Regions from separate parts of the Homo sapiens genome. Here region 2 is linked to region 1. Evidence: fine-mapped expression QTL. A gene starts in region 1. The other region holds a variant in brackets. All regions are shown on one strand. Distances are between the middles of the regions. Region 1 holds the start of PDCD6-DT (PDCD6 divergent transcript). Region 2 overlaps SDHA (succinate dehydrogenase complex flavoprotein subunit A).

Evidence for each region. PIP is the estimated chance that this variant, and not a neighbour inherited with it, causes the effect. A credible set is the group of variants that fine-mapping cannot tell apart.
Region 2: its variant is the best candidate, but not a certain one, in a credible set for the expression of PDCD6-DT in fibroblasts (GTEx, PIP 0.63).

What each region holds. Positions count from the first base shown.
Region 1 is chr5:268,767-273,149 of GRCh38, forward strand. It overlaps PDCD6-DT (PDCD6 divergent transcript), which reads right to left and starts at 2,758. Exons shown (of 2, transcript NR_104613.1): 1 at 2,579-2,758; 2 at 790-1,441. It overlaps PDCD6 (programmed cell death 6), which reads left to right and starts at 2,880. Exons shown (of 6, transcript NM_013232.4): 1 at 2,880-3,055; 2 at 3,945-4,006. The coding sequence starts at 2,955. PDCD6-AHRR (PDCD6-AHRR readthrough (NMD candidate)) reads left to right here and starts at 2,880. Exons shown (of 13, transcript NR_165163.2): 1 at 2,880-3,055; 2 at 3,945-4,006. RefSeq lists enhancers at 1,229-1,921, 2,583-2,672 and a silencer at 2,963-3,172.
Region 2 is chr5:253,049-257,431 of GRCh38, forward strand. SDHA (succinate dehydrogenase complex flavoprotein subunit A) reads left to right here. Exons shown (of 15, transcript NM_004168.4): 14 at 1,345-1,458; 15 at 3,286-4,034. The coding sequence ends at 3,372. Among named protein-coding and RNA genes, the nearest start is that of PDCD6-DT, 16 kb to the right of the region's middle. The variant C/G (reference allele first, on the strand shown) is at 1,698.

The DNA.
Region 1 (4,383 bases):
GTGTCCTCTCTTGAATGAAGGCATTTTCTACCCCTAGAACTAAAGGGAAAGCATGACGGAGCACTCCTGGGTGCCATGGGTGATGATGGCTGTGGTACTCCAGGTTGGAGACTCGGCCAACAGTTGGTAGAGCCCAACTAACTGTTGGGAGTGGAGGCTGAGGCCTGCTGCAGTCACTGAGATGCTCCCCCTTTTAAAAAATTTTAAAATAGCCCAAGCTAGTCTTGAAGTTCTGGCCTCAAGTGATCCTCCCACCTCAGCCTCCCAAAGTACTGGGATTATAGACATGAGCCACTGCGTCTAGCACTGAGCTGTTTCTTGCTGAGGTTTCCCTGTAAGAACTTCCAAATTGGGTCACAAAATCATAGTTGTTAGTATTTTCAGAGTTCTGGAGAACAAAACAGGAGCCAGTGATGGGAGGGAGAATAAAGATGGACTTCAGAAACTACAGCTCAAAGAGCTGTGGAAGATTCTAGAAAGGATTCTTCAACAAGTGATATGAATACTTTGTCAATGAAAAGGCTGAACCTCTGTGAAATACTTGAAGAGATTTATTCTGAGCCAAATAGAGTGGCCACGCCCATGACACAGACCTCAGGAGGTGGCTGGGGTGCAACTTGGTTTTATGCATTTTAGAGGGTCGTGAGACATCAATCAAATCTATTCAAGATATACATTGGTTCAGTCCAGAAAGGCAGGACAACTCAAAGTGGGGGCTTCTGGGTTATAGGTAGATTTAAAAATGTTCTGATTGGCAATTAGTTGAGAGTTATTACCAATAGAAAGGAATGTCTGGGTTATAAGAGGTTGTGGAGACCAAAGTTTTATCAGCAGAAGAAGCCTTGGGGTAGCAGGCTTCAGAGAGAATAGATGGTGTTTCTCATTAGACTTAAGGTCTGTGTTGGCTTTCCCTGAATTCCAAAAGGGAGGAGGGCATAGTCAGCCATGTCCCACCCGCCCCCACTTCATGTCGTGGCCTGAACGGTTTTCAGGTTAATTTGGAGTGCCCTGGCCCAGAGAAGGGGTCCATTCAGATGGGGTGGGGCCTTAGAATTTTACTTTTGGTTTACAACTTTATGAAGAGACCATTAGAAACCACTTGAATTCACATCATGAAAAAAAATCCACACTGTAAAAAAGGTTTGTAGATTAACACATTAGGTGAATGCCAAAGCCACAGAATATCTAAATTTCTCTGAGGAATTTGAAAACTCTCAGGTATATGCCTTGTGGACAAGAGAGACAGAAAAATGGGACAGAGGATGAGATAGTTTGGAGAATGGATAGCTGATCAGATCTGTAGCTGTGCCCAGAGTGCTGAATAATGGATTTGCGTCCACAGGGAAGAAAGTCTCAGGTGCCACTGATAAAAGACCACGTCCTTGGCTCTGGGTCCATTCAACATCTTGGTAGACAACTGAGTGAAAATTCAGAGACAACCCTAGGAAGTATGAGGATGAAAAAAGTTAGCATTCATGGAATGAGGCACTGAAGAAACTGAAAAGCTGAAATAACCCCATGAAATAATGAGAATAATTGTAGTATTCTGAACCGGGGCACAGGACACAGGACCGGGGTGGAAGGCGGCACGAGACTACGCGCGTGGGAAAGACCCAGGGATCACAGTGGCCCAAAGCTGGGCACTTCCCAATTCCGGGATTTGTGCTACAGGCACTCCAGGCTCCACCTTAGAACTGTGTCCAGCACGAAGGCAGTGCTGTCTTGCGGGAGGCAGGGCTGCACCACCACCGGGGTGTGAAGGGGCCCAGCAGGCAGGGGTGTGAAGGGGCCCAGCAGTGTTTCCAGCTGCACGGGGTCAGGGGCCGCGCTGATGCAGAGCACGGGGGCGCAGGTTAAACCTAAAGGAGGGAAGCTTTTGGGGGCGGAACAGACAACCGAGAATGCTGCACACTGCCTTTCCCACCCGAATTGTGTTTTGACTTTTTTTTTTTTTTTTTTTTGAGACAGAGTTTTGCACTTGTTGCCCAGGCCTGGAGTGCAATGGCCCGATCTCGGATCACTGCAACCTCCTCCTCCCGGTTTCAAGCAATTCTCCTGCCTCAGCCTCCCGAGTAGCTGGGATTACAGGTGTGCACCATCACGCCCGGTTAGTTTTGTATTTTTAGTAGATACGGGGTGTCTCCCAATTGGCCAAGGCTGGTCTCGAACTCCCGACTTCAGGTAATCCACTGGCCTTGGCCTCCCAAAGTGCTGGGATTACAGGCGTGAGCCACCGCGCCCGGCCTGCTTTTGCTTTCTTTTTTTTTTTTTTTTTTTTGGCAGAGTCTCGCTGTCCACCCCTGTAGTGCAGTGAGCTCGGCTCCCTGCGGCCTTGACCTCCCGGGCTCAGGCAATCCTCCCGCCTCAGCCCACGGAGTAGATGGGACCACAGGAGCCCACCACGCCCGACTACTTTTTGTAATTTTTGTAGGGATGGGGTCTATCCATGCTGCCCAGGCTGGTCCGAACTGCTGGGCTCAAGAGCTCCGCCCGCCTCCGCCTCCCAAAGGGCAGGGATCACAGGTGTGAGCTACCGCGCCCCGCCCAGAGTTTCCGACTGTTAGCAAATCACATTCACCTCAAAACTATTTATACAAGAACTGAAAGGCAAACTAAGTCCGTGCTCCATCACTTCCTGTCCCAGGTCGCGGGGCCGGACATTTTCTCCAAGCGCTTTCCTGGCACAGCGCGCAGGCGGCCTGCGCCAAAGCTCTGGCTTCCTCCAGGCGCCCAGACCCCGCCCTCCCCGCAGGCGCCAGGGCGTTGCCTGGCAACTTAGCTGCGAGGGGATTGGCTGCGCGGGACCCCGTGACCATCCCGGAGACCACGCATTTCCTGCGCCCCCGGAAGTGGTGATAATGCCAGGCCCTGCCCCCGGCAGAGGCGGAAGCGGAGTCGGCCTGAGAGGTCTCTCGTCGCTGCAGGCGCCTCAGCCCAGCCGCGTGCCTTGGCCCATGGCCGCCTACTCTTACCGCCCCGGCCCTGGGGCCGGCCCTGGGCCTGCTGCAGGCGCGGCGCTGCCGGACCAGAGCTTCCTGTGGAACGTTTTCCAGAGGTGCGGCCTGGCACCGCCCGGGCACCTCCCGCCTCCGCCGCGGCGGCCCCGACCCCTGTCCCGACTCCCCCGACCAACCCCGTTCCCTGCCGGTTCTACTGCGGCCTCCTCCGTCCCCTGTCGGGTCCCCCGCGGCCCCCTCCCGTCCCCTGCCGCCGCCCCCGACCCCTGCCCCAGCCGACGCGGCCGCCCCCGTCCCCTGGCGGGTCCCCCGCGGTCTCCCCCGTCCGCTGCCCGGTCTCCTGGGGCCGCCCCTGCCTCCTGCCCGGTCCCTGTCCTGTGCGTCGGGCCCTTCCCAAGATGCAGAGTGCGCCACTGCAGACCCGAGGTCGCGGCCACCGGCTCCTGGGCTAGGCCCTTTTTCTCGCCTCAAGAGCCGCCAGGTGGAGGGTCTCCAGGGTGCTTGTTTGGGGAAAGCGGAAACAGACTGCCTGGGCGCTGTTAAAATGTCAGCAGCCAAGGAAGAAGCAGCGACCTGGCGTCTGCTCGGGCCAGGTGACCTTTATGGCGGCGCCTTCTGTCCCTGGTCGCTTTTCCACCGAATGTCCGAAACTGTAGTGACTGATGGCCAGGGAATGGCTTAGTTATCTGAGGGAATCTTGTCTTGTCTGTGAAAAAGGGAAACGGGTGCAAATGGGAATTCAGACAGGCCAGGAGAGGAAGGAAGGGAAGGATTGAGGTGAAGATGATTGTCCTCTTAGGGGAAGACCACACTGGACGTCGGCTCCTGGGGCACTTCCTTGATTCCGCTGTACTCCTCAGCGGGACGGGAGAGGCGGAGGTTCCAGGAGGGAGCCTTCCAGAGTCGGTGCAGGGTTGACAGAAGACGTTTGTTTTGCTTTTCCTGAACTTTCGATCGCCAGCTTATTTGGTCTTCTTGATGTTATAGGGTCGATAAAGACAGGAGTGGAGTGATATCAGACACCGAGCTTCAGCAAGCTCTCTCCAACGGTGAGTGGGCCAGTGGGAACTGGGTCTCCGGACCAAGAAGCCGCGAGCCTGCCCTGTTCACAGTGGATAACTTTCTGAAGTTGTTTTTCCAAGGACAAAGGAATCATTAGGACAAATTGTTATTACTGCTTCGTAGTGGAGATGCTTCTGGTTTATTTTGTGGCTACCGCTGTTACTGCTTGGAGTGCCTCACCGAGCCAGCTAACAACTGCGTGCGTGAGCACAGGGAAAGGCTTCTTGAGAAATGAAAACTAGATTGTAGGTTTAGGAGGGGAATAGGAAGCTTAGCTCTGTACAGCCGAAAGCCTTTTGGTAAGTTGGAGGTCCTTGAATTTCCTGGGTGACTGCATCTTGGTGACTTCTCTGAATAGACCTTC
Region 2 (4,383 bases), 16 kb before region 1:
TTGTGCAGAGCGCACGTGTTGGATTCTGCCTGGTAAGAGTTTTTCCCATATGATAGCAAAAAACGACGGAAAGGGAAGCTTGGGATGCAAATGCAAGTTCAGGATAAACCACATCAGCAAAAGGACAAAGGCTCCACAAGGCAGGCGCACAGGCTGGTTCAGGACCGTGTGTAGGCGGCTGGTGGCAGCCTTTCCAGTCAGCTGAACATGGTGAATGGGAAAATCATTTTTATTCACCATGAAATTTTACTGATTTACCCTCCACTAGAATATGCTGATGGCTGTGATCACTGCTCAGAACTTGCTCTTGTCTCCTTGTATGTATTAAGAGTTTCCTGCAAAGTATATGAATCCGTGTTTGCCAGAATACAGAATAATAGTAAATTTATTATTTTTATTTTTATTTTTTTGAGAAGGAATCTCACTGTCCCCCAGGCTGGAGTGCAGTGGCGTGATCTCAGCTCACTGCAACCTCTGCCTCCCGGGTTCAAGTGATTCTCCTGCCTCAGCCTCCCAAGCAGCTGGGATTACAGACACACTGCCACCATGCCTAATTTTGTATTTTCAGTAGAGATGGGGTTTCACCATATTGGCCGGGCTGGTCTCGAACTCCTGACCTCAAGTGAACCACCCACCTCGGCCTCCCAAAGTGCTAGGGTTACAGGCATGAGCCACTGTGCCTGGCCAGTGCATAAATTTAGTTGGTCACAGTCAGTTTTAATTAGAATAGAAGCCAGGTGCAGTGCCTCACACCTGTAATCCCAGCATTTGGGAGGCTGAGGCAGGCCAATGACTTGAGCCCCAGAGTTGTAGACCAGCCTGGGCAACATGGCGAAACGTGTCTCTACAAAAACATAAAAAATGAGCCAGGTGTGGTGGTAGCACAGGAGGCTGAGGCAGGAGGATTGATTGAGCCTGGGAAGTCAAGGCTCCGGCAAGCTGTGATCACACCACTGCACTCCAGCCCAGGTGACATAGCCAGACCCTGTCTCAAAAAAAAAATTTTTTTTTAATAAAAACAGGCTGAAAGAAAAGATTGAGGTAGTCTCCCAGCACATGGAGCAAAAAGACAAAGTATTTGATAAACTCTTAGGTACATAAAGGATGCTTAAGGGAACATGCGGACATGGATTACTGTGGACTCACTGCTGGCTGCACACCCCCTGGCCAGCCATGCGGCCTCCGTGGGTTCTGAACATGTTGATGGTGCCAACCTCCTGGGCTGAAGTGGAAATGGAATGAGTTCTAGGGCATCTGTCTCTTAGATCATGTTAATGTCTGCTGTGTTTTTTCTGTATTGCTCTGTTAGAGTAATAAGAAACGTGATGGTGTTTCTGGCCTCAGGTGCGGATTGATGAGTACGATTACTCCAAGCCCATCCAGGGGCAACAGAAGAAGCCCTTTGAGGAGCACTGGAGGAAGCACACCCTGTCCTATGTGGACGTTGGCACTGGGAAGGTCAGTGTGGAGCTCGTTCTCACCACAGCCCAGCACCCACACGGCCCCGCCCAGGCCTGCGGGCTGGCCTTGCTGATGGTGAACGGGGAAGAGCAGGCCAGATTTAAATCAACTCCCGACAGATTCGAGGCACCGCTGAAAAAGGCACTCCGACAGCAGTCGGGCTTCGGGCTGGAAACAGAATCCAGTTCCTGCAGGTGGTTCAGAGGAGCCTTAAGGAAGGGTTGCTCCGTGGTGTG[C/G]GCCAGATGGACGTCACTGGGCAGGAGCAAGTGTCCAAGGCCTGGTGGTAGGGGAGGAGATGATGATTGTGGACCTAGCGAGAAAGCATCTGTGGGGTGGGGACACACAGCCATTACCAGAAACCAGTCCCACGTTAAGGGAGCCCAGAAGAGACACCTCCCCTCTCCTCCCACGGGCTGGGCCAACTGGAAGCGTCTGCAGGGGAGCTGAGGGGATGTGGTGCAGCCTTTAGCATCCCCTGGGCACTGAGCAAGCAGAGAAGGGCAGAAATGGAGGTGGGGTTGGGGTGAGCAGTGTCCTGGGAACAGCCAGCCGAGGGTGTGGTAGGGGGTCGCAGCCTTTTTCCACACACGGTGAGCAGCGTCCTGGGAACAGCCAGCCGAGGGTGTGGTAGGGGGGTCGCAGCCTTGTTCCACACAAGCACAGTTCACCTGTGTGGCATTTCCGCTGGGCATTAAGATTCAGAAATAATGAAGATAGAAAGCTTTTACCCTTAAACTTTTCATAGCTTGTAAGAGTCGTATAATCACTTAGCTGTGTCTGTGGAAGTTACCTTTGGACTCTCACTATCATCTAGTGTGTCTGTGATTCAGGCAGTAGGTCATTTTCAGGACTTCTCATGAAGGCCATTTCTTGATAGTGTATAGAAATCACACTTCACTCGCTTAGCACAAGTCTATTTTTAATGTTTCCGGGTTCGGGTTTTTTGGTTTTTTTTTGTTTTTCTGAGATAGAGTCTCATCTCTGTTGCCCAGGCTGATATGTGTTGGCTTGATCTCGTCTCACTGCAGCCTCAACCTCCCCCAGGCTCAGGTGATCCTCCCACCTCAGCTTCCTGGGCACATGGCACCATGCCTGGCTAATTTTTATATGTTTTGTAGAGATGGGGTTTCTCCACGTTGCCCAGGCTAGTCTTGAACTCCTGCGCTCAAGTGATCCACCTGTCTTGGCCTCCCAACAGGCATGAACCAACACCCCCAGCCAGTTTTAGTGATTTTTCAAGAAATACATACTCATTTTAGAAAGTACAAAGAGATTGAAATAAGAGCTCACTAACCAGAGACGACCCATTATGGTTTAAATTTCTTTGTATATGTGCCTACCTTTTCCTGTGTGTGCATATTTAATACACAGCTTGAGTATTCCTTCTCTGAAATCCTTGGGACCAGAAGCGTTGTGGATTTCAGGCTTGTTCAGACTTTGGAATATTTGCATTATACTTACTGTCTGAGCATCCCTAATCGGAAGATCTGACTCCATAGCACATTTCTTTTGAATGTCATGCTGGTGCTCAGAAAGTTTCAGATTTTAGAGAATTTCAGATTTTTGGATTAGGGATGTTCAACCTATATAAATATTTACTTTGAAGTAGAAAAACTGGAAGTAGATGGTTTAAACATAAAGTGTCTTGGTATAGACAAGGGTTCTCCCACTTTACATGATGGGAGCATTTTTGTAAAGCACTGAGAATCTTAAAGTTCACATGCCATAAATCTACTTTTATAGTTAAAATTTTTCAAAAGGAACACAAGAGATGGCTTTTTGTACATTTTTGTGCTTAACTTACCACTGACTCTTCTTTTCAAGGTCACTCTGGAATATAGACCCGTGATCGACAAAACTTTGAACGAGGCTGACTGTGCCACCGTCCCGCCAGCCATTCGCTCCTACTGATGAGACAAGATGTGGTGATGACAGAATCAGCTTTTGTAATTATGTATAATAGCTCATGCATGTGTCCATGTCATAACTGTCTTCATACGCTTCTGCACTCTGGGGAAGAAGGAGTACATTGAAGGGAGATTGGCACCTAGTGGCTGGGAGCTTGCCAGGAACCCAGTGGCCAGGGAGCGTGGCACTTACCTTTGTCCCTTGCTTCATTCTTGTGAGATGATAAAACTGGGCACAGCTCTTAAATAAAATATAAATGAACAAACTTTCTTTTATTTCCAAATCCATTTGAAATATTTTACTGTTGTGACTTTAGTCATATTTGTTGACCTAAAAATCAAATGTAATCTTTGTATTGTGTTACATCAAAATCCAGATATTTTGTATAGTTTCTTTTTTCTTTTTCTTTTCTTTTTTTTTTTTGAGACAGGATCGGTGCAGTAGTACAATCACAGCTCACTGCAGCCTCAAACTCCTGGGCAGCTCAGGTGATCTTCCTGACTCAGCCTTCTGAGTAGTTGGGGCTACAGGTGTGCACCACCATGCCCAGCTCATTTATTTTGTAATTGTAGGGACAGGGTCTCACTGTGTTGCCTAGGCTGGTCTCAAGTGATCCTCCCTCCTTGGCCTCCCAAGGTGCTGGAATTATAGGTGTGAACAAACCACCATGCCTGGCCTTGTAGTTTATTTCTAAGTTCAAATTAATGTTGGTGCCTGAGAACGAATGGAGAAAACTAACATTTCCTCCTTTTTCTTGGCAGACGGTTTACTAGGTGAGTGTGTCCTTGATTATTCAAATCAGGGGTCCCCAATCCCCAGGCCACAGATTGTTACCAGTCCATGGCCTGTTAGGAACCAGGCCGCACAGTAGGAGGTGAGCAGTGGGCCGGTGAGCTACTGTGTGAGCTCCACCCCCTGCCAGAGCATTACTGTGAACTCCGCCACCTGTCAGAGCATTACTGTGTGAGCTCCGCCCCCTGCCAGAGCATTACTCTGTGAACACCACCTGTCAGA